4 linked regions of the Homo sapiens genome follow. The protein of the gene in region 4 purifies or fractionates together with the protein of the main gene of each other region. This does not show direct contact. Each region holds a gene or a part of one and is shown on either strand. Other genes may lie near its edges. The genes, in order: RBM34, MRPS9, RBM19 and ZNF2.

The links.
Region 1: the proteins of ZNF2 (region 4) and RBM34 purify together in Homo sapiens (affinity purification with mass spectrometry; 2 studies listed by BioGRID and IntAct, with this or other methods). This does not show direct contact.
Region 2: the proteins of ZNF2 (region 4) and MRPS9 purify together in Homo sapiens (co-immunoprecipitation; 3 studies listed by BioGRID and IntAct, with this or other methods). This does not show direct contact.
Region 3: the proteins of ZNF2 (region 4) and RBM19 purify together in Homo sapiens (affinity purification with mass spectrometry; 2 studies listed by BioGRID and IntAct, with this or other methods). This does not show direct contact.

Annotation. Positions count from the first base shown.
Region 1 is NC_000001.11:235,158,227-235,166,122, forward strand, and holds the start of RBM34 (RNA-binding protein 34), read right to left. Parts: upstream 3,025-7,896; 5' UTR 3,001-3,024; coding exon 2,948-3,000; intron 2,842-2,947; coding exon 2,667-2,841; exon of another isoform or gene 2,422-2,666; coding exon 2,285-2,421; intron 2,276-2,284; exon of another isoform or gene 1-2,275.
Region 2 is NC_000002.12:105,041,068-105,048,091, reverse strand, and holds part of MRPS9 (small ribosomal subunit protein uS9m), read right to left. Parts: intron 1-7,024.
Region 3 is NC_000012.12:113,956,303-113,963,326, forward strand, and holds part of RBM19 (probable RNA-binding protein 19), read right to left. Parts: intron 6,113-7,024; coding exon 5,930-6,112; intron 3,877-5,929; coding exon 3,757-3,876; intron 3,602-3,756; coding exon 3,563-3,601; intron 3,103-3,562; coding exon 2,910-3,102; intron 1,749-2,909; coding exon 1,480-1,748; intron 1-1,479. UniProt on the Homo sapiens protein: Plays a role in embryo pre-implantation development.
Region 4 is NC_000002.12:95,175,790-95,182,813, reverse strand, and holds part of ZNF2 (zinc finger protein 2), read right to left. Parts: intron 6,627-7,024; 5' UTR 6,588-6,626; coding exon 6,555-6,587; intron 5,332-6,554; coding exon 5,205-5,331; intron 2,656-5,204; coding exon 2,542-2,655; intron 1,751-2,541; coding exon of another isoform or gene 1,712-1,750; coding exon 708-1,711; 3' UTR 1-707. UniProt on the Homo sapiens protein: May be involved in transcriptional regulation.

The sequences.
Region 1 (7,896 bases), on a different chromosome or scaffold from region 4:
CAACATGGTGAAACCCCATCTCTACCAAAAAAATACAAAAATTAGCTGGGTGTGGTGGTGGGCGCCTGTAATCCCAGCTACTCAGGAGGCTGAGGCAGGAGAATCGCTTGAACCCAGAGGCGGAGGTTGCAGTGAGCAAAAATTGCACTGTTGCTCTCCAGCCTGGGCGACAACAGTGAAACGCCATCTCAAAACAAAAAAAAAAAACAAAAAAAAACGAGGGATAAGGGAAAGAGGCGAACGTGGATGGATCTGACGGCACAGTCCCTAAAAAGGCAGAACATATGTGGTACACACAGCACCCAGGTGGTTGAGTTAATCTTGGACAAGAGGGAAGACACTCTGCTCTAAGAAAGAGGGGAAGAAATATGGCTGTGTACAGATGCATTAAGTTTAAATAGGACAAAAAGTAGCAGTTCCCAACTGTCAGTGATTAACAGCTCCAGAACTGGTACAAAGGTCTTCAGTTGAAATGAGAAAAGGGAAAAGGAAATAAGGGGCTTGAGGAGAGTGGCAAAGAAGAGAGGAATGAAGACTGTTAGCTAGGTACACGTGATGGGATCACTATTTGCATCTTGATTCAAATACACTGTTAAACAACGTTATGCTGGCCGGGCATGGTGGGTCATGCCTGTAATCCTAGCACTTGGGGAGACGGAGGTAGGAGGATGGTTTGAGCCCAGGAGTTCAGGACTAGCCTGGGCAACATAGCAAGACCCTGTTTCTATTTTTTTACTAAAAAAAAAAAAAAAATGCTGACTGGATCACTTGAGTCCAGCAGTTTGCGACCAGCCTGGGCAACATGGCAAAATCCCGTCTCTACAAAACATACAAAAATTAGCTGGGCATGGTGGGGCATGCCTATAGTCTAAGCAACACAGGAGGCTGAGGTGGGCGGCTGGATTGAGTCTGGGAAGCAAAGATTGCAGTGAGCCGCAATCGCACCACTGCACTCCAACCTGGGTGACAGAGCCAGACCTTGTCTCAAAAAAAAAAAAAAAAAGTTAATGAGGGAAATGAATAAATTTAAGAACACCAAACTCGGCCAGGTGTGATGGCTCACGTATGTAATCCCAGCACCTTGGGAGGCGGAGGCAAGTGGATCATGAGGTCAAGAGTTCGAGACCAGACTGGTCAATATGGTGACACCCCGTCTCTACTAAGAATACAAAAATCAGCTGGGTGTGATGGCGCGCCCATAGTCCCAGCTGCTCAGTAGGCTGAGGCAGAAGAATCACTTGAACCCAGGAGGCGGAGGTTGCAGTGAGTCAAGATTGCGCCACTGCACTCCAGCCTTGGCGACAGAGTGAGACTCCAGCTCAAAAAAAAAAAAAAAAATTTTTTTTTTAAAAAGCAAACCAGGCCAGGTGCAGTGGCTCATGCCTATAATCCCTGCACTTTAGGAGGCTGAGGTGGGTGGATCACCTGAGGTCAGGAGTTCAAGACCAACCTGGCCAACATGATGAAACTCTGTCTCTACTAAAAACACAAAAAATTAACCGGGCATGGTGGCACCTGTAATCTCAGCTCCACGGGAGGCCTGAGGCAGGAAAAATCACTTAAACCCGGGAGGTGGAGGTTGCAGTGAGCTGAGATCAGGCCACTGCACTCCAGTCTGGACAAAAAGAGCAAAACTCCGTCTCAAAAAAAAAAAAAGAAACGCAAACCAAATTCTTTTATATACATGCTGAAATATTTATAGATGAAACATAAATTTTCATTTTGCTTCCAAATAATGAGGTGGTAGCTGGGCGAGGTGGCTCACACCTGTAATCTCAACACTTTCGGAGGCCGAGGTGGGCAGATCGCTTGAGGTCAGGAGTTCCAGACCTGCCTGGCCAACATGGTGAAACCCTGTCTCCACTAAAAATACAAAAATTAGCTGGGCATGGTGACGCAGGCCTGTAGTCCCACCTACTCAGGGCCGAGGCAGGAGAATCGCTTGAACCTGGGAAGCGGAGGTTGCAGTGAGCTGAGATCACTGCACTCTACTGCAGCCTGGGCGTGGCATCAAGACTCCATCTCAAAACAAACAAAAACAAATAATGAGGGGGTATATGAGTGGGGTAAAAATACAAAAAGGTTAGCCAAATATTAGTAATTGCTGATGCTGAGTACACGGGGTTTCTTAGCCTTTTCAACTTTTCTATATGTACTGGATTTTCCATAATAAAAGTTTTGAAAGAAAGTAGAAATATGAAATAAAACTGACGAATATTCCAAGTATAGGAATGTTAATTTACCATCTAATTTCTTTAACATCAAATAAGAGAATTTTACCAACCTGTCTGCCAACTTTTTTTCTGCGTTAGTGTGTTTCTTCTTCGCTTTCACTTTTTTGGCAGGTTCTTGCGAAAGTGGTCTTTCAATCTGGGATGTACTTTCTTCCTCCTCATTCCGTTTCGTTTTTTTGATGGTTTGCTTTTTAAAAGTTTGAAGTTATATTTGAGACCCCATACTTCTAGAATTCTGACCCTAAGCCATAATTCAGTCTTTCTAAATGAGAATCTCTTCTCTCTCACTGGTATGTAAGAGTCATGAAAGGTTACTTAAAATGAATCCTGTCTGCCCCCTTTAGAAATCACGCTTCACGCGGTAGGTAAGAAGATTGCTTTGTATGTAAGTGGTTCTAACGAGCTATTCGGGAAGAAAGCCCAGTGACTTACTTTAGGCACAGGCACGTACACGGGTTGAATCTGGGGCTCCAGAGAACTGAAGAGGGACGCCAGCCGACCGGTGCCACCTCTGGAATGGTGTTCGCCGCGAAATAAGCTACTGGCGACCTGTCCAAGCCTGTAGTCTTCCGGCGGACTCCCGCGAACGCCGTCGTCAGGATTCTCTCTAGAAATGGACGACAGAAACTCAGCCACGCCACGCACCACCGCTTCGCCAGCACGAGGGAACGTACAACATCCCTCCCCAGGTACTCGTGCCGCGCGCCACTCACCCCTCCTGGACACTTCTCTTTCTCTTCCGTTTGCTCATCCCTTCCAAGGCCATTCTTACTCCAAAGACTCCCAGACTGCAGCTGCGCGCCAGCTCGCACTTCCGGGTTCCGGGCACTTCCGCTCTCTGGCCACGCCCCCTCCCCTCCGGCAGTCGGCCGCCGGGCGGCGGCGAAGGGAGGCGCTGGGTGAGGGAGCAGGTTTGTCGCCGTCGGTTGGTGGTCCTCGCCGTTTCAGAAAAGCCTCATTTTGGGAGTGAAGGACGTCTTCTGGGAGTGGTTGAAGCCTGCAGTGTGAAGAATCAGCCAGGCTAGGAGCGGGGTGTCCACCCAAGCCGAGAGAGAAACACGTAGAATACTGACTTGTTGAAAAGGAGGGAGGGAGGTTTGGCAAGAAATGCGGTTAGGGGTGAACGCAGTGGGGTGTTTACAATTTGCTAATCGCTGTGAAGAGTACAAAGGAATTCTTTGTACTCTTCTTGCAACTTGTCTGAAACATGACATTATTCCAAAATAAAAACCACAACTCTAACGAGTCACGTCAACATACAATTCGAAAGATTGTAATGCGGACCTGCTATTCTACCTGGAAAAGTAGATACTTGGCATTCAAAACGCTTCAAGGTGTTCTCAGCCCGTCTTCCCAGACTCATCTCCCTCCAGCCCCTGACATTCTAGCCTGCTTTCTCCACTGCCTCTACAGTTGTTATTCCTGTCCCCTCTGTTGTAATTGCCCTCCTCTTTCCCCTTCTGCAAAATAATGTCCATCCTTCAAGGCCTACCTCAGATACTGTCTAACTTAGTATTTCTTTGCAGCCAGGTGCGGTGGCTCGCCTGTAATCCTAACACATTTGGAGGCCGAAGTGGGAGGATTGCGTGAGGACTAGGAGTTTGAACCAGCCTGGTCGATCTAGCGAGACTTATTCTCTACAGAAAAGAAATTAGACGGGCACCTTCGCGCTCGGCGCCTGTAGTCCCAGCACTTTGAGAGGCTCGGGCAAGAGGATCCCTTGAGCCCTGGAAGGTCGAGGCTGCAGTAAGCTGTGATCGCATCACTACACTCCAGCCTAAGCGGCAGACCCTGGCTCAAAAAAAAAAAAAAAAAAATTCTTTGCTATTTACAATAGGGATATTTTCCCAAGCCCCCATGGTACTTACTATAATCATTTTTGGTCTGCTTTAGTGTTAGTTACAGTCTCTTTAGATGTAAAGGCAAGACAGTAAGGATTATGTTTTATTCATCATGTATGCTGTGTCTCTATTAGCTGTACATAGTGAATATTTGTTAAATTGACTCTCAGGGTAATAAAAGATTACTAGTTAAATCATCCAATAGTTTGAGTGGCAAAATAGGATTTGACTTTGTTCTTATTTTCTTTCAGACAAGGTGTTGCTCTGTCACCCAGACTGGAGTGTAGTGGTGAGATCACGGCGCACTGCAGCCTTGACTTCCTGGGCTCAAGCCATCCTCCCACCACGGAGTAGCTGGAACTGCAAGCAGCAGCACCATGCCCAGCTAATTTTTTTTTTTTTTTTGGAGACAGAGTCTCGCTCTGTCGCCCAGGCTGGACTGCAGTGGCGCGATCTCAGCTCACTGCAACCTCCGCCTCCCGGGTTCAAGTGAGTCTCCTGCCTCAGCCTCCCAAGTAGCTGGGATTACAGGTGCATGCCACCATGCCCAGCTAATTTTTGTATTTTTTTAGTAGAGACCGGGTTTCACCATGTTAGCCAGGCTGGTCTCGAACCCCTGACCTTGTGATCCGCCCACCTCAGCCTCCCAAAGTGCTGGGAGTACAGGTGTGAGCCACCGCGCCTGGCCTTTTTTTTTTTTTTTTTTTTTAAATAGAGATTGGGGTTTCACTGTGTTTCCCAGGCCGGTCTTGAACTCCTGAGCTTGAGCAGTCCTCCTGCCTTGGCCTCCCAAAGGGTTGGAATTACAGGCGTGAGCCACTGCATCCAGCCAGGATTTGACTTTGAGTCTTTTGGGGACAGCCTAAGCTTTTTGAAAGCTACTCAACCAAGTTGACTGGGAATATATGTGACTTTTACTTCCCCCTTCAGAGAAATTTATGAAAAAAATCCACAATATTCAACTGCTCGGCCCTGGGTTTTGATTACTGGGCCCCTTATTTTGGTTTCCCATAATCTTGATCTTCTGGTATTTCACAAAGATGAAGAAAGCTTATCCATACATGCATGCGATACAACTCAAAAATCTGTTCTATCCAGTCCAGTGAAGAAATTATATTCTATATTTCTAGAATTATAGAATTCTATTCTGTGTATTTTTTGAGACGGAGTTTCACTCTTGTTGCCCAGGCTGGAGTGCAGTGGCACGATCTTGGCTCATTGCAACCTCCGCCTCCCAGGTTCAAGCGATTCTCCTGCCTCAGCCTCCCGAGTAGTTGGGATTACAGGCATGCACCACCATGCCTGGCTAATTTTATATTTTTAATAGAGACAGGGTTTCTCCATGTTGGTCGGGCTGGTCTCGAACTCCTGACCTCAGGTGATCCGCTCGCCTTGACCTCCCAACGTGCTGGGATTACAGGTATGACCCACTGTGCCCAGCTAGGTAGCAGATACTTATAGAAGAAAACAGACTGCGAAAGCAGCTGTGGTTGCAGATAGTTTTAAAATTATCTTCATTGCTGTTCAGTGCTGTTTTTAACCATTTAGAGATCACTTACTGCTTTGAGAGTTTTTTAAAATATGAGGACATGGTGGGACAAGGTGGCTCACGCCTATAATCCCAGCACTTTGGGAGACCAAGACGGAAGGAATGCAAGCCCAGGAGTTTCAGATCAGCGACTGCGCCATTTGCACTCCAGCCTGGGCAACAAGAGCGAAACTCCGTCTCAAAAAAACAAAAGGAGGCCGGGTGCGGTGGCTTACGCCTGTAATCCCAGCGCTTTGGGAGGCCGAGGTGGGTGGATCATCTGAGGTCAGAAGTTTGAGATCAGCCTGGCCAACATGGTGAAACCCCATCTCTACTAAAAATACAAAAATTAGCTAGGCATGGTGGCGGGCGCCTGTAATCCCAGCTAGTCGGGAGGCTGATGCAGGAGAACCACTTGAACCCGGGAGGCAGAGGTTGCAGTGAGCCAAGATGGCGCCATTATACTCCAGCCTGGGCGACAGAGCGAGATTCTGTCTAAAACAAAACAAAACAAACAAAAAAAAGAAATTAACAAGACCCCACTCTAAAGTTTTTTCAGTAGGAAAAAAAACGTTTTGGAGAACACCGTTAAGAAACGTATCATCTTGGGTGGGCGCGGTGGCTCATGCCTGTAATCCCAACACTTTGTGAGGTCAAGGCGGGCAGATTACGAGGTCAGGAGATCGAGACCATCCTGACTAACACGGTGAAACACCCCTCTCTACTAAAAATACAAAAAATTAGCTGGGTGCAGTGGCACGTGCCTGTAGTCCCAGCTACTCGGGAGGCTGAAGTAGGAGGATCACTTGAACCTGGGAGGCAGAAGTTGCAGTGAGCCAAGATTGCACCACTGCACTCCAGCCTGGGGCAACAGAGTGAGACTCCGTCTCAAAAAAAGAAAAAAAAGAAAAGAAAAACATACCATCTTAATATGTCAATTGTAAACTAACTTAGTAAAGTCTAGTTTAGGTGACCAGAAGTAGACATAGGTCAATTCTACTAATTCAATAAAATCCTCAAACCCTCTTAAGAAGGTAGGACGTAGAACAAGAAGGCAGGCGAGACAGAGAGGCACAAAGTCATAAATCTCGACTCCACCAAAATTTGGAATAATTCCCCTATTCAGCACTGTTTCTATAACATACTCAGTATGTGATATTAAGAGCTCCTCAAAAAACAGGGTTTCATGATTAGGTGGGATTGAAAACAGTAGGGTAAAGGAAGTTATTAGGCAGGTATCTCTTCACAGGCCTTCTCAAAGTTTTTAATATGCAAACACTGTGATTCTCTAAGAATGTGCTATACATAGATTTTCCAAAATATATTTGGTTATAAATTCCCAGAGCATTTCCAGGGACCAGTATTCTAGGAATTCATTTTGGGAAGCACCGTTCCACAGATTTAAAATATCATCCCTTAAACTAATTTTTGTGAAAATAAAGGGCCACCACAAAGATGCTTTAAAAAATATGTATTTAAGCTTTCTAGGCCTTAAAAAAGTTGATTTCCTTTCTCGTTTTTGTTTTTGTTTTTGTTTTTTTTTGAGACGGAGTTTCAATCTTGTTTCCCAGGCTGGAGTGCAATCTTGGCTCACTGCAACCTCCGCCTCCCAGGTTCAAGCGATTCTCCTGCCTCAGCCTCCCTAGTAGCTGGGATTACAGGCATGCGCCACCATGACCGGCTAATTTTGCATTTTTAGTAGAGACAGGGTTTCACCATGTTGGTCAGGCTGGTTTCGAACTCCTGACCTCAGGTGATCCACCCACCTCAACCTCCCAAAGTGCTGGGATTACAGGCATTAAGCCACCACGCCCGGCCTCTCTCTGTATTAAAGAAAGGTTTTCTTTTTTTTGAGGCGGAGTCTCGCTCTGTTGCCCAGGCTGGAGTGCAGTGGCACGATCTCGGCTTACTGCAAGCTCCGCCCCCCAGGTTCATGCCATTCTCCTGCCTCAACCTCTCGAGTAGCTGGGACTACAGGCGCCCACTACCACGCTTGGCTAATTTTTTTTTTGTATATTTAGTAGAGATACGGTTTCCCCATGTTGGCCAGGATGGTCTCGATCTCTTGACCTCGTGATCCGCCTGCCTCGGCCTCCCAAAGTGCTAGGATTACAGGCGTTGAGCCACTGCGCCCAGCCAAGAAAGGTTTTCTGTTGGTAGAAAGTCCAATAAGTGGGGCCAAAAAACTAGATTATAGATTTTTAGAAGTTTGCGGCAAAGCAGTGTTTCTCAACCCAGATGCATATTAATATCACTAGAGACCTTTAAAAATTAAAGATCAACATCCAGGTAC
Region 2 (7,024 bases), 9.9 Mb from region 4:
CAAGTCTTTGCTATTGTGAATAGTGCCGCAATAAACATACGTGTGCATGTGTCTTTATGGAGAGGATGTGGAGAAATAGGAACACTTTTACACTGTTGGTGGGACCGTAAACTAGTTCAACCATTGTGGAAGTCAGTGTGGCGATTCCTCAGTGATCTAGAACTAGAAATACTATTTGACCCAGCCATCCCATTACTGGGTATATACCCAAAGGGCTCGCATATCTTTTAAAGGCATCAGTAATTATATCACACTTGCTGCTGCTGGTCCTTTTATGCTGTGGCACTAGGAATTTCCCTCCAAGGCATGAAGATTTCGCCTTCAGTCAAAGATGCTAAAAAACGAGAAAAATGTTTTCAAATGACATTCAGCTGCATCCCGTAGCTGGAAATAACTAGAACAGATCTTTCTGGTCCTGGCTTTTCTTAAGATCTCAAACCTGTAGTTCTCAACCTTCATCCTGGCCCCAACAATTCTAAACACTCTTAAAGCAATATTCAGGCCTTAAAACCACAATCTTAGGAATCCACTCACTTCCTTTTTCATAAACATAAATCTCTCTCAGACAGACATCATTCACTGGCACCATCCCTCCTACCTCCATCCCCTTCCCTTCCAAGAGTCCTAAATTCAGATGCCTCTACAGTAATTTGTCACTAAAGTTACACAAGAAAATATAAGAAAAAATACAGGAGAAATGTAACAATACCCAATTAATGAAAAAAATATATGTTTTTAAACTCTTCCAAATTAAGATAGTAAAAATAGAGTTTCTTCTTACTTTTTAATGAGTAAGAAAAGGGCAATTTAAAATTCTCTGAAACTTGAGTTTATTTTTACTTAGGAGATCACATCCTTCTAAAATATATTACTAACCAATCATTATCGTTTCTCACAATGCTTTGTGAAGATACAGTATTGCTGTCAATGAGTAAAAGCATGACCACAACTGGCTAATGCATGGTCCGCTCTTTTATAGACACAGCCTGTCTGTACACCCCTGCTCCCCTTGCCACAGCCCAGCGCCACCAGCACCAACTCCCTACCATAGTGGTTCCCATCTTAACGTTTTTACTGTTTTCCAGGGGATTTTAAAATTTGTTCTTTATGAGTCTACGTCTTCTTTGGGCAATGGAGAATGTTGCTTCACATATTCAAAGTGAAGAGAAATTATCTTTCTACCCCAAGAATCATAGCAAAGGTGTGATTTGGGGGCCAAAAAGTAGCAATCATATAGTAGATAATTCTCCCAAATGTTCCATTGCCAAAAGGATGATTACACTGCTGGTTTTTATAGATAACATGACAAAATGTTTTTGTTCACAGCTAAAACAACCCTAATACAGGTGAACCCACAAAGACTTTCTTTTAGGTCACTACAACCACACTCCCTGCCAATCACCAACCACAGCCCTCAGGAAATGTGCCTCCTGGAGCGTATGGCTCCTTTCACTGAAGGGATTCCAGAGGAGGAGCAAGATCAGGGAGGAAAGTGATGCGTTCAAATTTGAGAATGTGTGTGAGATGTTGATGGACATCCCAGGAAGACAGATGTCCAGGAGGCAGGTGGCTTTGTGGGTGTGAGCATGGACAGACCTGAGCTTCAGATACAGGTCTGTTAATCACCTGAGACATGATGTTGACACTTAAAAGAGAAGGAGAAAAAATGGCAAGCATTAGCGTTAGGACAAAAAACATGTCTTCTACTAGTAATGAAACAAATTGTTTGTAGGTGAGGGAAGGTAGGCAGAAAGGCAAGGTTACTTATGTCTTACACCCTCTATTTTCTCTATGAAATAGAAGATGGTCTGTCTGCTGAGAGCAAAAGGCGGTAGGTTTAACAGACTGAACACCTCATATTCAAAGAACTGTGATGCAGTGGTTGTAAAGTATAGACAGAAAAACTGTCAGAAAGAAATTAGAGATGTCTGGGTGCGGTGGCTCACGCCTGTAATTCTAGCACTTTGGGAGGCCAAGGCAGGTGGATCACTTGAGGTCAGGAGTTTGAGACCAGCCTGGCCAACATTGTGAGACCCCATCTCTACTAAAAATTACAAAAATTAGCAGGGCATGGTGGTGTGCGCCTGTAATACCAGTCATTCAGGAGGCTGAGGCAGGAGAATCGCTTGAACCGGGGAGCCGGAGGTTGCAGTTAGCCAAGATCGCACCACTGCACTCCAGCCTGGGCAACAGAGGGAGACTCTGTCTCCCAAAGAAATTAGAGAAAAAAATTTTAAGTATTCATTCATACTTAGAGGTAATTCTCATTACTAGTGAGCCAGGAGAATAATTCCAGACAGGAATCTATATCCATACAATGTCTGTAATCTTTTGTCAATTTTATTTCCCTATGGTTGGTTTCTTTTGTATGTTTCATCGGTATATTCAATGTGCTATTTAGTTCCAGAGAGTTACATCTTAGGGTAGATTGTACCGTTCAGCATTACAAAGTTTTCTACTCCTATGTAATATTTTTTTTCTTCAATTCTGTTGGGTCATAATATTGCAACCCTTTCAACCTCCTATTTACATTTCCCTGGAATATCACTGCCCATCTTTTTCATTTAAGTTTTAGACTATTTTTTTTAGGTTTTGTTTTTTTAACCCAATCTGAGATTTTAGTAGATGAGAATACCCAAGTTACATGGGGTTTAACAGCTATTCGGTCTTGTCATTCATCTTATTTAATCTTTACATTTTTTAATGCTTCCTTCCTATTTTCTTTCTTTTGCTATATGAAAAAAAAAAAAGAATTGGGTTTTCTTTTTTTTTTGGCTTTTGAGCTGGCAATTTGGACCATATACAGCTTGCTCTCATTTTACCAGTGACAATACATGTGTCTCTGAATAAAATGTTTAAATGTACTATCAACTTCAAAAATAAATATCCAATGAATTCTTACTGACTTATTCAGCTCTTTTTCAGCCACAGCAATTATCTGTTCTTCTGTTCTCCATAGTTTAGATCAGCTTCTCTTAGTCTTATTTCTTATCCCTTTTCTGCATTCTGTATGATTTTGAAATCTTTACTCCATGTTTTTTTCCCTCTTTCTACAGTGTCAATTCTGCTTACTGCAGCCACTATGAATTTTTAGCTTTTTATATCATTGGTCTATCCTCAAAATTCTTACCTCAACAGTTTCCTTTAATCATATCTTCTTGTCTTATCCCATCTCATAGAGCTCCTCCTCACTCAACTGATTTTTAAATGTCCTTGACAGTGTTAAGTAGCTGTGGTAAAATAATTCTTCCATTTTGTTAGGTAAATATCCCTTTGTATTTTCTTCAGCTGTCTCTTCCACACTGTTCCTTTTGCTCCTACAACATTTTAGCATCTTCTCAAGCAAAAGAGTCTCGATTATTGAAGACTTGGTTTTTCACTTGATTTAAAATTGTGTCTGCCTATAGTCTCCAGAGTTTGTGACATAAGGTGGTGGCTTTCCTACTTTTAACATAATTGAGGTTTAAACATATTTATAAACATTTTCATTGTTGTCCATTTAGAAAGGGCTTTAAAAAAATGGCCCTAATTTGCTATTTTTCATAAAAAGTCCTTAGGATCTTTTTCAAAGACATTTCTACACATTGCTTAAGAGTATGGCATTCTGGAAATTTATAATATTAAATTTACAAAGTTATCACAGCATCAGTAGCAGGATATTGAATATGTTTATTAAAAGTCCAGAATTATTCCAGCAATGAATTCACACAAAAATATTTACATTCAAAGGAGTCCATTATTCATTGGTACAATCCATTAAATAAGGTGAGGCTAAGAGTGTGAAAAAAACAGATCTTTAGCTAAAAACACCAAGAATTCTTGAAGGGAATTTGCTTTGCCACTGTTAAGAACAATTTGCAGCCAGGCGCAGTGGCTCATGCCTGTAATCCCAGCACTTTGGGAGGCCGAAGTGGGCGGATCAACTGTCAGGAGTTCGACACTAGCCTGGCCAACATGGTGAAACCCCATCTCTACTAAAAATACAAAAATTAGCTGGGCATGGTGTCAGGCACCTATAATCCCAGCTACTTGGGAGGCTGAGGCAGGAGACTCACTTGAACCCAGAAGGCGGAGGTTGCAGTGAGCCGAAATCACACCGCTGCACTCCAGCCTGGGCAACAGAGCAAGACTCCATCTTAGAAAAAAAAAAAAAAATTGCAGCCGGGCGTGGTGACTCACGCCTGTAATCCCAGCACTTCCGGAAGCCAAGGCAGGCCGATCACAAGCTCAGGAGTTTGAGACCAGCCTGGCCAACAAAGTGAAACCTTGTCACTACTAAAAATATAAAAATCAGCTGGGTGTGGTGGTGGGCACCTGTAATCCCAGCTACTTGGGAGGCTGAGGCAGGAGAACTGCTTGAACCCAGGAGGCGGAGGTTGCAGTGAGCCGAGATTGCACCACTGCACACTCCAGCCCGGGTGACAGAGCAAGACTCTTGTCTCAAAAAATAAAACATAAAAATAAATAAAAATTCTAAAAAAAAGGAAAGAAAAAAGAAAGGAAAGCAGGCAGGGTCCAAGGGATCTCTATCAGCTAAAAGTTATCCATGCAGGTTCAATCAGAATGTGTCCATTAAGACAAAACGGTATTCCAACTGTCCTGCCTCTATGCTCAGGATCTCAGGAGGAGGAACATCTGAGGATTACTTTGAGTCAGGTGCCCCAGATTATTCGGGACTATAGCTAGGTCTTCTCAACTATAACCAGCGAAAAAGAACTAATTCCTCCTGGGGAAACTGGGATACTACTATGAAGGGGAAACGGATACTATGTTAAACAAATAAGAAATCCACTTACTTAAACAAAATTTACCATTTACATTAATTCTATAATCTGTTATAAATTAAGACACTTAACATACTTACCAATCAAATAAAACGCATAAACCCTGTTTAACTCCCAATTAAAATAAACCAACTATATACAAAAAGCTACTGTTGGGACATTCAGGGAAATTTGAACATGAAATAGGTAATAGATGATAAGAAATTACTGTTCATTCTGTTAGATATGGCGGTGGCAAGGAATCTATTTTTTTAAAAAAACCTTTATGTTAGAGATGCATATTCAAGTACCTATAAGTAAAATAACAGAATGTCTGGGGTTTACATTAAATGACTCTGGGGGGTGGGAGGGGAGAAATAAAAACAAGACTGGGAAATTATTAATAATTGTTGAAGCTGGTTGATGGATCTGTGGAGTTCATTATATTATTCTATTTTTATATGCTTGGTTTTGCAGAATAAAATTCTAAAAATAAACTACTTTACAAGTTCATTTAACAAATCTGAGCAATTATTATAGACCAGGCTCTGTATTAAATGTTAACAGAAATAATTGTAAAGAAGAAATGAGTGATGTTAAAGTGAGAATGTTGCTATAATGAGATAAGAAAACAAAACATAGTAAAGATGCAGTTTTGTTTAAGCTAATAATCCTATCTGACAAAAAGAATGATACAGCAGGTGTTCAGATGTACCCACATGTGCACACACATAGGTACCCATATATGCCCACACATAAGAACCATAGAAGAAAGACCTAAATACATGAGAGAGACACTTAGATAACAAGAAAATAAGTATATGTGGGTCTTCCACTGTTGTAGGCAGCTTCCAAGATGGCTCCCAGTGAATCTGCCACCTGCTGTTCTTCTCTCTTGCTTACCTTTTCTTCATCAGCCTGAGGGAAGCCAGATGTGCTGAGTTGCCCTAGAGGCCCATGTGGCAGGAGCTGAGGGAGGGCTCTGGCCAACAGCCAGCAAGGACCTGGGGCCTTCAGCCCGACAGCCTGCAAGAATCTAAATCCTGCTAACTACAACACTGAGTGAGCCTAGAAGCAGACTCTCCCCACCCACAGTGGAGCCTTGAGATGACTGCAGCCCCGGCCAATACCTGGACTCTTGCCTTACCAGAGACCCTGAGCAAGAGGACCCAACAAAGTGTGCCTGGAGAACCCTGACCCACAGAAACTGTAGATAACAAATGTCTGTTGTTTAAGCTGCTAGGTTTTAGGATAATTTGTTATGTAGCAATAAATAACTGATACGTTCATCATCCTAATTACAATGAAGCATTGTACAAGAAAGTTTAGTTATCTTGTTTTACAAGGAAAAGAGAGGTGAGAATGATAGTAGCATTTATTATCAAGCTCTTATTATATAAGAAACATATAAATTGCCAAATAAAGACTGTAAATTTTAATGTAGAGGTATTTTTCCTAATTACAGCAATGAGGAACACACTCAATTCTATCCTTACAAGGACAGGATTAGATCTCAAAGGGAACAGTTTATCCTACCAAAGGGCTTTTCTGTTGCTAATAAACTGGGATTAAAAATAAATATATTCAAAAATTATCGGGGTAGGGCATAACTAATTTACAGAGCTGTACAGAGCATCTGATACAAATTCAAGTCAATTATACAATTTGTTTTTCAAAGCGTTTTTTAGCCATTTGTCAAAAAAAATGTATTAAGATCCTACTAAAGCAGATCAATAGAATGCTGTGATAAATACAGGATATTATAACCTCCAGAAGCATGAGAGATTAAAAAAAAAAAAACAGATACTTTAGACAGAGACAGGAATGTGTTTACAGTGGAAACCAAAATATAAAGGGCCAAGCCATTTAATGTCATTGATCACTTCTCTGGCAGATGGTCTAAATCAACAAAGGCATCTTGGCTTGGCAAAAACTGAATATTTAAGCACTAGGAAAGTGTTCAGTAGTAGAGAATAATTAAGAAAACACCCTATTAGTGTTTTGTAGAAATATTTTTCAAAATAGCAATTGGTCTTTTGTTTTTCCTTATTATAAAAATCACAAATATTATAGAAAACCAAATTAGCATTCCTATATTAGCTATATTGATAGAGGATTTATGAATTCATGGGTAACCTTTGTAGTACAGCATGGAAGGAAACTGTCAACTGCTCATAATAATGCTAACACTATTTTCATTTGTGAGAGGTAAAAAATTCAGCTACCTTAGCATAGCAAAACAGATCATACTGATTCCTGCC
Region 3 (7,024 bases), on a different chromosome or scaffold from region 4:
AGGTGCAGTGGCTCAGGCCTGTAATCCCAGCAATTTGGGAGGCTGAGGTGGGTTGATCACTTGAGGCCAGGAGCTCAAGATCAGCCTGGACAATATGGTGAAACTCCATCTCTACTAAAAATACAAAAATTAGCTGGGTGTGGTGGTGTGTGCCTGTAATCCCAGCTACTCGGGAGGCTGAGGCATGAGAATCACTTGAACCCGGGAGGCAGAGGCTGCAGTGAGCTGAGATCACACCACTGCACTCCAGCCTGGGCGACAGCAAGACTGTCTCAAAAAAAAAAAAAAAAAAAAAAAATACAGGGCTAGGCAGGGAGAGAAGTGATGCTTCACAGAGAAAGGAGGGAACAGGGACCTGGACAACATGTCAAACTGCTCTGTCTCTGATGCAGAGAGGACTCCCAGGTCAGAGACGAGTTGGCCGACCTCTGGGGAAGCGCCCACGTTTATGATCTCGACTTCAGACCCCACAGACCTGGGGCTAAGTCCTGAACCCACCATTTCCCAGCCATGACCCTGGCTGAGGCACCTTCCTTCTCCAGGCCTGTTTCCTCATCTGTAAAATGGAACAAGACCAATACTGCCCTCCAGATAGTGATGAGATGCAACGGCACGGCAGGCATGGTGCCTAGTGTGTAGCGCAGGCTCAGTTGATCCTCCCTATGATTGCTGATGACTGGTCTGCACCCCTCTGCCTGTGTTGTTACTAAATACAAAGGATAAAGGCTCAAAGCCATCACTCAGCTCACTTCTGCCCCATTGGTGGGATATGGGTGTGTTGACCGGGGCTGCTCCAGTTTGCCCGGGATAGTTGTTCACTCTATCTGTAGTCATTAGACCTGCAGTAACTACATCCACAGCCTGGCACCCCACTGGACTAGCATCTCACTTTTAACTTAGTGTTGACAATAATTTAGTTGTCACCCTACTTATAGGCAATTTCTGGAAGGCAGGTGACCTCTCCAGGTTAGCAACAGAAAATAAATGCAGAGGCTGGGTGCAGTGGCTCATGCCTATAATCCCAGCACTTTGGGAGGCTGAGATGAGTGGATCACTTGAGGTCAGGAGTTTGAGACCAGCCTGGCTAACATGACAAAACCCCATTTCGACTAAAAATACAAAAAATTAGCTGGGTGTGACTATAATCCCAGCTACTCAGGAGGCTGAGGCAGAAGAATCACTTGAACCCAGGAGGCGGAGGTTGCAGTGAGCTGAGATTGCACCACCGCACTCCAGCCTGGGTGACAGAGTGAGACTCTGTCTCAAAAAATAAAATAAAATAAAATAAAAATAAAAACAGAAAAGAAACGCAGAAAGAACACACGGCGAGCAAGCGGCAGGGCCAAGATCGGGAAGGCTTTGGACTGCAGAGCTGCGTCTTTCCCCAACATTCCGCTCTCCTAACAGAGGAGCTGTGGGGACCACGGGCAAGCAGGAGAGCGCACCTCCTCCCTCATCACCTGCGGGATACACACGCACCTCGGCTCTGGCCTCCGGTGGTCTCTTTTTCCCAGCTGGCATCCCTTGCTCTTGGCCTGCACCCTTGCTGTCTCTTTCCTGCAGGACTGGGGTGGCGGAGGAATCCTCTTCCTCGGCCTCACTCCCTTCATCACAGTGCACGGCTTCATCTTCACTTTCCTCTTCCTCCGAGGAAGAGGACGACCCAGCCTTCACCATCTTGGATTTCAGGTAATCCATGTCCGACAGCTCCTTCTGCACAGCTGCCTTTGGTTCGAGGCTTGCCTCTTCTGGAAAAACAGGGAAGCTGGGATCAGCGACAGCTATGAGCAAACCAGAGGTCAGAGGTAGCAAATGGTAGATGGTCCTCCTAGTGAGAGGCCTGAGGCACCATGCCCACCGTGTCCATGGCCCCTGTGCCCAGCATCCCCCATAAGTCCTCTGATTAGCAATACCAAAACGGGGCAGGGCTACTGCAGCTTTGATATTCTCTGTGCCACACATTGAGCTCCTGGCTCCCTGCCACCAGCCATGTCTTCCTAGTCCTCTACACGGCAGCCTCTGTGACACTTTACAGAGTAGGTACAGGACGGTCAGTCTCTGCTTAATACCCTCCAGGGGTTTCTGAATGCTCAGGGTGAAATCCAGGCTCCTCATCAGGGCTGGCTGCGTGGGCTTCTTCCACTGTCTCCTCCTGCTCAAGCCATCCCAACCCACATTGAGCCCCTCAAGCCCATGCACTTTCCTTTCCTCTGTGTCTCTGCGATGCTGTTCCCTTGACTGGAACCCCTTTCCTCTCCCCTCCCCTACCGTGTCCCACTAAGTCCCCTGAGTTCCTCGGATGTGAACTTAGTGCAGAAACGTTACCAGGCATAACTGCACTAAATGTACATCTTCTCACCTTTAGACCCAAATAGATGCCCAGTTCTCCACCAAGCACGTACCCTCCTGTGTTGCAACTGTTTTCTTGCCCACCAGGCCTCCCCCACACCACAAACCCCTTCTGAGGACAAAGGCTCACTCCCTCACCTCCTCAGGGAGGCCTTCCCTCATAATTCTCCTGTCGCCTTTCCTGCTTTCTCTCTGTAGCATTCATCATCCTATGATATACCCAACAGTGGACTTATTTGCTTATTGTTTCTCTCCACAACCATAATCACAGCTCCATAGGGGAATAAACCCTTCTGTCTTTTGCTTATCAACATGGTCCCAATGCCTGAAGTATGCCTGGCAGATAATAGGTGCTCAAGAAATATTTGTTGACTGACTGACTGAATACACAACTAGGATCAGTGAAGACAGATGCACCTGCAGAGGGATCATCACCCCCAATGGAGAGCTCAAGGGCTCACCTGACTCCTAGAGTCTGCACAGAGGGGCCCCCAGTGCCGGTTAGCCCAATGGCAAGCACAGGTCCGTGCGCATGGAGCACACAGTCCCCATGCCCTCACCTTCCAGGTCCTCCCCGGCTCCCTCCTCCTCACTCTCCTGCCCAGAATCGGAGTCGAAGTTCAGGTAGTCACTGGCCGGCTTGCTCTTCCCTTTCGAGGGCTCAGCATCCAGGCCATCATTCGCCCAAGTGGCTGCCTGCGCCCGCCTCTGATGAACTGACAGAAACTCCTGGAACTCTGTATCCTCCTTCAGCTGGTGGCACCAGAACCCGGGCGGCAGGGACACGGGAAAAAGAGAGAGGAAGAGGCAGAGAAGGCTCAGGTGGGGCTTGATCTTTCTAACTCTTAAGAGGGTGAGAAGATCCCTCAAGCTAATTTCCCCCATTCTCTGGAGGACCCCGAGGTTCAGCTGGGTCAGTTCTGAGGAAGGCAGAGTTGACTCCTCACTAGACAAAACTAAGAGGACAAGAAGACAAGGCCAGGGGAGACCAGAGGCACAGCTCTGCTTGCCAGGGCCAGCCTCCATCCTCTCCAGCCTCTTCCCTCTCCCAGTGTCCACCCTCTCCAGCCTCTTCCCTTTCCTAGCCTCCACCCTCTCCAGCCTCTACGGTCTCCTAGCCTCCACCCTCTCCCAGCCTCTACCCTCTCCAGTCTCCACCCTCTTCCACCTGCTGCCCACCCTCTCTCCTCCTTGGGCAACAGGACAGACTCACCTTCTCCAGTTGACCTGCCACCTTTTTCTTCTTCTCATCCTGAAAACAGAAGGCACAGAGAGTGAGGGTCACACAGATGAAGAGAGCTGGGAAACAGAACTGCACTGACCTGGGAGGGCCCATCTTTGGGAACCAAAAGTGAGTGACTACCCTGCTGGCAGTGGGGACAGAGGCTAGAGTGACCCTTTACATACTTTCTTAATTTCTGGAGTAGTAGAGTCTTTTGGAGGCTGCTTGGGCTGGCTTGGTTTCTGGGCATGTTTGCTCCAGGCTCTGGGTTTGGCCGGGTCCCCGAATGACTTGCAGAACTCCACCTGTGTGGGAAAGAGAGTGATTTTCACACCTGCCATGGCACCCAGGCGTTGGGTGCTGCCCTTCGGCACCTGGGAGCTCGGGCATTTCAGACAACTGTCACTGCCTAGCTGAGTTTGCTGAAGTAGATTACACGTCACCCCTTAGCCTGGGCTTTCTTTCCCTTCAAGTCTAGAATACAATACTCTAACAGTCTATCATTATGAGTCTGTAATACTGTAATGGTAATAGCTGCCACTTACTGAGGAACTCCACATGCCAGGTACTGTCTGAAGTGCTCTGCAAGTACTGATACACCGAGCCTCTCATGTCAGTGACAGCTATGACTTTCTACAATTCAGATCAAGAAATTGGAGCATCAAGAAGTCAATTTCCCTGGCTTACCCAGGTAATAAGTGACAGAGTGAAGACTGGAACTCAGGGGGTCTCTGGGCTCTGGAACCTGAGTTCTTAACCATCCACTCTACCGGGCGGCTGTGAGGATGGCATGAGATGACCTGGGCCAAGCACTCAACCAGGCTCTGGGCAGGGTAATGTGGGGCAGTGGCTACCACAGTTACCCCACACTGCCCTGGGTTAATTATCATAAAGTAAGCTCATCTGGCTCCAGAGAACAATTCTAGGGTGATAGGGGCACTGGGGTGACCACTGGAGGGACGGAAGAGTACTGGAGACCCAGCCTGAGCTGACGCACTATTCAGGCCCTAAAACCTCCAATACACTCCTCTGAGAGGACTTTGAGAGCGCTGGTTACTGGGGCATCCACCACCGCAAGCCACTCCCAGCCACAGTTAAGGCTGACGCTGGTCAACCAACCACTGCCCCTGGGGGAAGGAGCTGCCATCTGGTTGCAATCCTTTTTAAGACACAGGGTCTCACTCCGTTGCCCAGGCTGGACTGCAGTGGCATGATCATAGCTCACTGCAGCCTCAAACTCTTGGGCTCAAGTGATCCTCTTGTCTCAGCCTTCTGAATACCTAGGACTCCAGGCACATGTCACCATGCCCGGCTAATTTTTTTTTTTATTTTTGTAAAGACGCAGTCTTGCTATGTTGCACAGGCTGGTCTTGAACTCCTGGCTTCAAGTGATCCTCCCACCTCAGCCTCCCAAAGTGCTTGTATTATAGGCAGGAGCCACCACACCTGGCCAGTTACAATCCCTTTTGTGCACACTTCCAAAATAGGCTTGTTATCTCTATAATAATGACATGCTCACGGTACAAAATTCAAATAATATACAAAAGTACAATGGAAGTTAAAAAAGATGTACTCCAATTCCTATCACTCATGGAGAGGAATGATTAGTATTTTGGTACAAATCCTATCCTATGGCCTTCTATGCATTTATCATATATGTATGGATAGAGGAATACGATTGTGTCTATATAGGATCACGAGACATATATATATTTATCCATCATCTGTTTTTTCCTTCTCAACAAAGCATTAGAGATGTTTTTACGAAGTCACTAAATACACGAGTGACCTGAGTGGAGCCCACTCCTCCAGGAAGCTTTCCTGACTCCTCCCTGGTCCGGCTATAGATCTTTGTTCTCCCACAGTCCCTGGGGCTCACCCTATCATAGCACTGATGTCACTGAGCCAAAGCAGCCTGCTGACCTGTCAGCCCCCTGCCTGCCCAGAGACAGCAGGCTCCATGAGGACAGGGGCTGAGGCATCACCTTTTTCTCTAAACTCCCAGCATCATTGAGTGCTTGCTAAATGCATGAGTGAATGGATGAGGTAGAGCTGTGGTTCTCAAGGTGTGGGCCTCAGACCAGCAGCATGGTCGTCACCTGAGGGCTTGTTGGATGTGTGAATTCTTGGGTCCTGACTCCATGCACTGAATCAGATGCTCTGGGGACGGGCCCAGGAAGCTGTTATAATAAGCTCTCAGGTGATTTGTATGCACATGAAAGTGTGTGAATCGGTGAGGAAGAAAACCAAAGACATCACAAAGTGAAGAGGGACGGTCTTTGAACTCAAGTGCTGAGTGAAAGATCAAACAACGTCACACTTGACAGGAAGGTAAGGGTGAGACTCCTGCCCACTCACTGTGATCCGGGATGTGTCGATGAAGCTCTTGTTGAAATGCTTCTGTGCCTTCTGGGCCTCTTCCTCGGACTTGAAGCCAATAAAACCAAACTTGCGGAACTTGCCATCTTTGGTGAACTTCAGGCTGCAGTCTGTCAGCGTGCCGAAGGCGGCAAACAGCTGCCTGAAACGCTCCTCCTTCATCTAGGACAGAGGGAAAGGAATGAGAGACGAACTGGAAAGTCCCCAGAGCAAGGGGACAAAATGGGCTGGAAACCTGAGGCCACGAGATTCTCCAAGGGTGGCCTTAGATGAAGAGGGGCAGAGTGTACTTTTCTAGTTACAACAGGTTCCAGCTCTGACTCTAGCACGAGTTGTGTGGCCTTGAGAAAGTCCCTTAACCACTCACTGATGTGGAAATCATGACTCATAATGGCTGCAAATGACATCTTCCTACCCTATGGGGCTCCTATGAGGATAAGACCAATTACAGAAGCAGTATTACGTCTGCTACATAGTAGATACCTAATAAATACTTGTAGGAATAAATGAAAGAATGAACAGGCATGGTAAGCTATATATATCTTTGTTAATAAAGCCCCCCCAAAAGATGCCCACATCCTAATCCCTGGAAACTGTGGATATGTTACCTTACAAGGCAAAAGGGACTTGTCAGGTGTGACTGATATGGAGATGGGGAGATGATCTGGATTATGCAGCCAGGTCCAATGTCACCTCAAGGGTCCTTATGAGAGGGAGGCGGGAAGATCAGAGAAGATGGAAACAGAAAGATTGGAAGATGCTATGCTATTGGCTCCAAATATGGAGTATATAGCTATGAACCAAGGAAGGCAGGTGCTTCTAGAAGCTGAAAAAAGGCAAAGGGACAGATATTCCCACAGAGCTTCCAGAAGGACTGCAGCCCTGCCAAAGCCTTGATTTTAGGATTTCTGACCTGCAAAACTGTAAGATAAGGATTGTCTGGATTGTTTAAGCCACTAAGTTTGTGCTAATTTGCTATAGCTGCACTAAAAAACTAACACACTATTATTATAATTTGGTCAAGAAGCCCCACACTATGGAAAACAGGCTCCTGGCTTCTCACCATCTTCACTG
Region 4 (7,024 bases):
AGAGAATAGATTTTGAAGGTGGACCTGTCTTCAAGACCTGGCATCACCTTTTACCAGCTGGTTCACCTTGGGCAAGTGATTTAATCTCTCTAAACCTCAGGGTGCTCATCTGGAGATGCAGATGGTAACAGTGCCTACTTCATATGGTTGGTGACAGGATCAATTAATCTACTTCCTGTAAAACCCTTAGCTGAGTCTTTACCTCATCGCAGGTGCTCAGTAAGTGCTAGCTACTAGCAGTGGAAGTAAGAGGTCTAAAAGCTGGGACACAAGAGAACAAGATTAGTGCCCCAAAATGCTCCAAGAGAGGGGGACTAACAGCCATCAAAACAAATGTTCTGAAAAAAAAAAATAGTACTGCTGTGATATCATTCTGCCTTTCCCTCCTGTTGCAGCCTCCAGTTTCTTAAAGTGCAGTGATACCTGGGGCCTAGGTTCTCAGACAAGAGGTGTGTCTCCTCCTAACATCTATCCTATTGTCTGACAAACCTCTTCAAAATTTTGTATCTTTAGAGTCATTTCCATGGCCTCCCCTACAGTTCTATAACACAGCAGGAAGGGAGTGCTTATTAAACACTCTGGCGCAGAAGCAGGACAGGACAACGGCAGCCAGAGTGGGTAGAATGAGCAAATGGCAGCTTTAAGACAGGCGAGATCTATCTCAAATTTGTATGGAAGTTCTTGTCCTACCCAAGCTTTTGCCCAACTCAGTCTATTCCCTGTTTGGCGTAACGCCGTTGATGTTGAATAACAGAAGATTTTGAACTGAAAACTTTCCCACACACAGTGCATTCAAAGGGCTTCTCTCCCGTGTGGACACGCTGATGCCGCGTGAGCCGGCACCGCTGGCTAAAGGCTTTCCCGCATTCGCTGCATTCATATGGCTTGTCTCCAGTGTGGATCTTCTGATGCTGTGTAAGGGATGAGCGGTCAAAGAAAGCTTTGCCACACTCGTTACACTGATAGCGAGGGTCCCCAGCATGAGCTTTCTGATGTCTATTCAGAGACGAGACACCATAGAAAGCTTTCCCGCACTCGTTACACTCATAAGGCTTCCTGCCAGTGTGGATTAGCTGATGGCGAGTAAGAATACTTTTCTGGCTAAAGGCTTTCCCACACTGATGACATTCATAAGGACTTTCTCCAGTGTGAATTCTCTGGTGTCGAGTAAGGGATGAACGGTCAAAAAAGGCTTTTCCACACTCGTTGCACTGAAAGGGTTTCTCTCCAGTGTGAATTCGCTGATGGACAGTTAGGGACGAACGGTCAAAGAAGGCTTTTGAGCACACACTGCACTCGTAGGGGCTCTCCCCAGTGTGTGACATCAGATGTCTGCTGAGGCTGCTCCTGTGGCTGAAGGCTTTCCCACACTCGCGGCAGTCGTAGGGCTTCTCCCCAGTGTGAGTCCTCTGATGGCGGGTGAGGGATGAGTGGTCAAAAAAGGTCTTCCCACAGTCACTGCATTCCTGGTGTCTCTCTTTAGTGAGAATTTCCCTGGACAGGGCTGACCGTCGCCGCAAGCCTTTGTCCCGGGAGAGGGATTTCTTACGAGTCTCCCCTGAAGGGCTTTGCTTTTCTGTTCCCATCCTGCCATTGGGTGTATGAACTTCAAATTTAGGACACAGAGGACTTTGCCTTCCAAGGCATTCCCTCAATGATCCTTCTGATTTTTTGTCTGAAGCATCGTGAATCTCAGGCTTAGTTTCCCAGTCTGGAACAAACAGAAAACAGATGCAGTTTTTTTCCTGGGCTAGGAAATATTACAGAAAGAAGAGATGCTCCGATGAGTCTGAAAGTAATGTATGGTCACTGCATTGCTTGCTCCCATAGATAGTCTTACACGGCAGGGAGGGACTAAGACCTGGGAGTGAAGAAGGTGGCAGGGAACAGAATGGATGGTGGACACCTCAGAAAACAGGAGAATGTCCAGTGGGAGCATGGCCAGGACAATCAGGAGAGCATGCCGAATAGACAGGATGGCACTCAATAGCAATAGCAAAGTGTGGCTGGGCATGGTGGCTCACACCTGTAATCCTAGCACTTTGGGAGGCCAAGGTGGGCGGATCACCTGAGGTCAGGAGTTCGAGACCAGCATGGCCATCATGGCGAAACCCCATCTCTACTAAAATACAAAAATTATCCAGGCGTGGTAGCGGGTGCCTGTAATCCCAGCTACTTGGGAGGCTGAGGCAGGCAGAATCGCTTGAACCTGGGAGGTGGAGGTTACAGTGAGCTGAGATAGCGCCATTGCACTCCAGCCTGGGCAACAGAGCGAGACTCTGTCTCAAAAAAAAAAAAAAAAGAAATAGCAAAGTGTGAGTGCACAACGTTACAGACGTGAGAAAGTAACACTTGGTGAATATAGATGAATAACACGTTAAGGTGTAGAGGGAAAAAAATAAAAGCTATTGGGTGATATACAATAAATAATAAAGCAGAAGACTTGAATTTGAGAGAAAGATGATACCTGTTATTTCCCCCATCACCCAAATAACAAAAAGCCAAACAAAATTCCATTCTGTCTTGTTCACACTCAGTTACCTAGAGAGACACTCTCTGGCCATTCTCTCTCCTCAGACCCATGAAGATCTACCATCCACGGCTTGTCCCCTCTCTTCAATTGGAAAATCACATCAGGTTGAGGAACTGGAAGGCCTGCTCAAAGAGAAAGAAACAAAGCAGGTGGCTGTGTGTGATGAAAATAATATCACTCTCCCAAAGCTCAATCCCAGCCTCTAAGATTTTTTTGTTGTTGTTGAGACAGCATCTCACTCTGTCGCCCAGGCTGGAATGCTGTGGCCTGATCTCGGCTCACTGCAACCTCCATCTCCCAGGTTCAAGTGATTCTCCTGCCTCAGCCTCCCAAGTAGCTGGAATTATAGGCGGGTGCCACCACACCTGGCTAATTTTTGTATTTTTAGTAGAGATGGGGCTTTGCCATCATGGCCACGCTGGTTTCGAACTCCTGACCTCAGGTGATCCACCTGCCGCGGCCTCCCAAAGAGCTGGGATTACAGGCATGAGCCACTGAGCCTGGCCACAGCATCTAAGTCTTTTAGAGAGAAAATGCAAAAGGCAGAACGCACAAGCCAAGAATGCAGAGTCCAAAGCAGAGGAACCTCTGGACGGAGGCCAGGACTGAGGCTATAAAAGGAGCAAGTGGCACAAGGTCAGAAGGTTGAGAGAACCCGTGTAGATTCACGTGTTTATTCTTCCCTGTGAAGTGAATGGGAAGTTCCCAGTGTTAGCACTGGTAGGATGAAGGTCGTTGGCTTAGGAGAGATGAGAATGAAATTAAGTCACCTTGAGTAAAAAGTGTATCCAAACTGCCCATTTTTGTTTATTTGTTTGCCTTGAACATTGTGCTTTCATTGAAACAAGTCTGTCCGGTGCATTCTAGGAAAATTAGAAGTGTATACAAGCAAAAAGAAAAAATCACCTTGCCTACAGTGTATTTTCTTTCTTTCTATTCAGATATCCAAAGACACCCATAAATACATTCTGTTAAAAACTGGATAATGAGGCTGGGCACAGTGGCTCCTGCCAGTAATCCCAGCACTTTGGGAGGCCGAGATGGGTGGATCACCTGAGGTCAGGAGTTCAAGACCAGCCTGGCCAACATGGTGAAACCCTGTCTCTACTAAAAATACAAAAATTAGCAGGGCATGGTGGCCCATGGCTGTAATCCCAGCTACTTGGGAGACTGAGGCACGAGAATTGCTTGAACCCTGGAGACAGAGGTTGCAGTGAGCCGAGATTGCATCACTGCACTCCAACCTAGGCAACAGAGTGAGACTCTGTCTCAAAAAAAAAAAAAAAACAAAAAAAACCAAACCTGGATAATGAAATGACGCTGATTTGTAAAGCTGATTTTTTTTCACACAATAAATTTAAAATACCATTTTATTTATATCAGTACTGATCTACCTCACCATTGTAATGGCTACGGGATATGACATTGTATGGATAACATAATTTATTTAATGAATTCCCTTATGATAGAAATTTAGACCATTTTTAACGTTTTGCTATTAACAAACAATAGTGTGATGAACATCTGCATACACCATGGACTACTAGTCCTATTATTTCCTTAGGATAAATTCCCTGAAGCAAATCTATCCATTTTTGGTTATATTAAAAAATAGATCCTGGAAATAGGCTTGGGCTCTAAACTTCCCTTTTGCTGAGGCCCCAACTTGGGAAAGAGGCACTTTCTTATTGGGCCCAAGGATTGTCTACCGGGTTTTCTGTGGATTCTCTGTTGACAAAACGGCCACACCCAGCATCTCCCTGTGGCTCTCTGTCCCTGACCTCAGGGGTTCTATTTTCCTCAATATGCCATCTACTAAAGCCTGTAACAAATGCTCCTTTGATGCCTCCTGAATATTCCATTCTGTTTGGGAGACAATTGGCCTGATTAAGTTAATCTGGGGGGTGTTAGCACTTACTTTTTGACCTGCCTCGTAGGAAATCTGCAATGTGACTCCTTTTACTGCCATCTGCTGCTTATTTTAAGCCGGTTTCTCAATCTGGGCACTCTCTCAGCCTCTCGTGAAGCTCCTGAAAGGTTCTCATAACCTCCAGGAGCCCAACTTTACTTTTCACTAACACCAGAATCAGCAGTGACTCTTAACTTTCTCTTTGTCACACAAGTCTCTATAATTACAAAGTGTCTTCTGTGAGCATCTAAGACTGTACCTAAGACAAATATTCAAAATCAAACATATATCTGGTGACCTCAGAGGCACAACCCTGAATTCCGACAAGATGGCCCCCTACCCCAGCGCACACTCCTCTGGGTGAGCTGAGTTACCTAACTGGCGAACTGGGAGAACTGGGCATATGAAACTCAGCGTCTTCTGCCTGCCCCTCTGGAGCGCCAGCTCCCTGCCTCTAACACACATTCCGCTCTGTCCCTCAGCCCTCGCTGGCCCTCCCTGAATTTTGCCGGGCAGGCTGCTGAGCGAGAGAGCCTATGGTCATCCAGCACTGCCCATGGCTGGGGAGGCATGTCTGCCCAATGCTGGGGTTCAGTATTGAGCCCGCCGTTGCTGTACTCTGATGCCACATCTTTCGACTCTTACTTTATCTCTCAGGTGGCTCAGAACTCAGCGGGGAGGAGAACGGTATTAATTCCTCAGCCCTCTCAGCCCCACATTAGCATAGTACAGACTGTACCTCCTCATGGAGGCTCCCCTTACCCAATGACACAATGCTGTTATAGTTCTCCAGCATCACCTCCTTGTAGAGGTCCCTCTGTATGGGGACCAGACGACTCCACTCTTCATCTGTGAAAACCACGGCAACGTCTTCGAATGTCACTGATTCCTGAAAATACAATCACATTCTCCCTTACTCTTAATCCTTCTCTTTACTTGGACCAGACCAAAAATGTCAAAGATGACAGCCCTGGAGGACGCATGGTGGGAGGAAAGAAAAACAGTTCTGACTGAGTAGAACTTTAAAGCATTTGGGAAAAGTGGCCTCATCACCCAAGACATGAAGTTCTTGGTCAGAATCTCACACCACTATACTTACAGCTGAGCTTCTGAATATCAGACTCTTTTTTCAGACTTCTAAAAACAGCACAAAAAAATTCCTGTGTACCCTTCACCTGGCTTCCTCAACTGTCAACATTTTCCACATTTACTTTATTTTTCTGTCTCTCTCTAGATACACATTCTCCTATCTTTTTGTTAGGCCTCTTGACTAACTTGTCAACATCATGTGTCTTTAATCCTAAATATTTCAGTGTGTATTTTGTAAAAACAAGGATGTACTGTTGTTATAATCACAGTATAACTATAAAAAATGGAGAAAATAGCATTGATCTTATACTATTATCTAATCTACAATCTTACTCAAATTTCACCAATTGTCTTTTTTTTTTTACAAATCCTTAGAATAATGGTGTTGATTAGATCATCTGTAGGATCCCTCTCATTTCATTCTAATGCTCTGTGATTCTGTAAGATTGCATCTCTTTACCTTCAGTTCTAAAACCTCAGATGAGTCTCCAGTGTGTCTGCAAAAGTTCTAGGCCAGGATGCAGAATTTAAGACTCTGCCCTCGGGCAGGAATGGAGCAAGCCACACAGTCTCTAGCACAGGAGACTCTCTTCAGGGCTCTTAGCACCCCACAGAGGTGCTCTACAGTGTGTATCACACGCCCCAGCCTAGCCCCACACTCCCTGGAACACTGGAGCCTCCTCTCAGTCCACACATGAATGTACCAAAGGGACTGTCAGGACCAGAACCAGCCCACTATTCCCCAAACCTTCCAATCAGACCCTACCATTGGCTTCTAGGCAAAATCACTCACAGTGAAGGCTCCAGGAGTTGTTAAGCCTGGTGACAAGCTAATGGGCACATGCTCACAGCAAGAAAAGGTCACTAAAGGATACCTCAAGTCAAATAGGAAAGAAATACTCCCTGTGGAGTCCTTCATCTGCCTGGCTGGGTCTGCTCAAAGAGGCTCCAGGATAGAGAAAGAAAAGTGGTTACATTCTGGAGATGAATGGAGTATTTCGGGAACACAAAAGTCCACCTCACCTGGCATCTGGTGGTCGGAGACACAGCAGCCATTCTCTCCTGTGTGCTCTCCTTGTGGACAAGGGCAGAGTCCTAATGAGGCAGAAGTGGGGGGTGAGAAAGAAGGTAGGAGAAAGACCAGTCCTGTCGCATAGTCTTTTGACCCATGAAGCACATACCAGGGGGATATGTCATCCTCAATACCTTACAAAAGGGGGTCTAAGTAAAGCAAAGCCAGGAACAATCCCAGACCACCCCAGAATTAGAGCCAACAACCATGGAACTGCGAATTAGACCACAATGTGGTGGTGGTTTTTACCACGATGCTAGAGGCAGAGTTCTGTTCCTGAGAGTCAAGAACTGTGTAAGATTCACACAGTACGTAAAAATTCACATTCAATATTGCCCTGAATGATTACTGGGCAAAAGCCATTAGCAATTTTATAAATGACTACATGGACAAGACATATCAAAGACAATCCAGTCTCTTC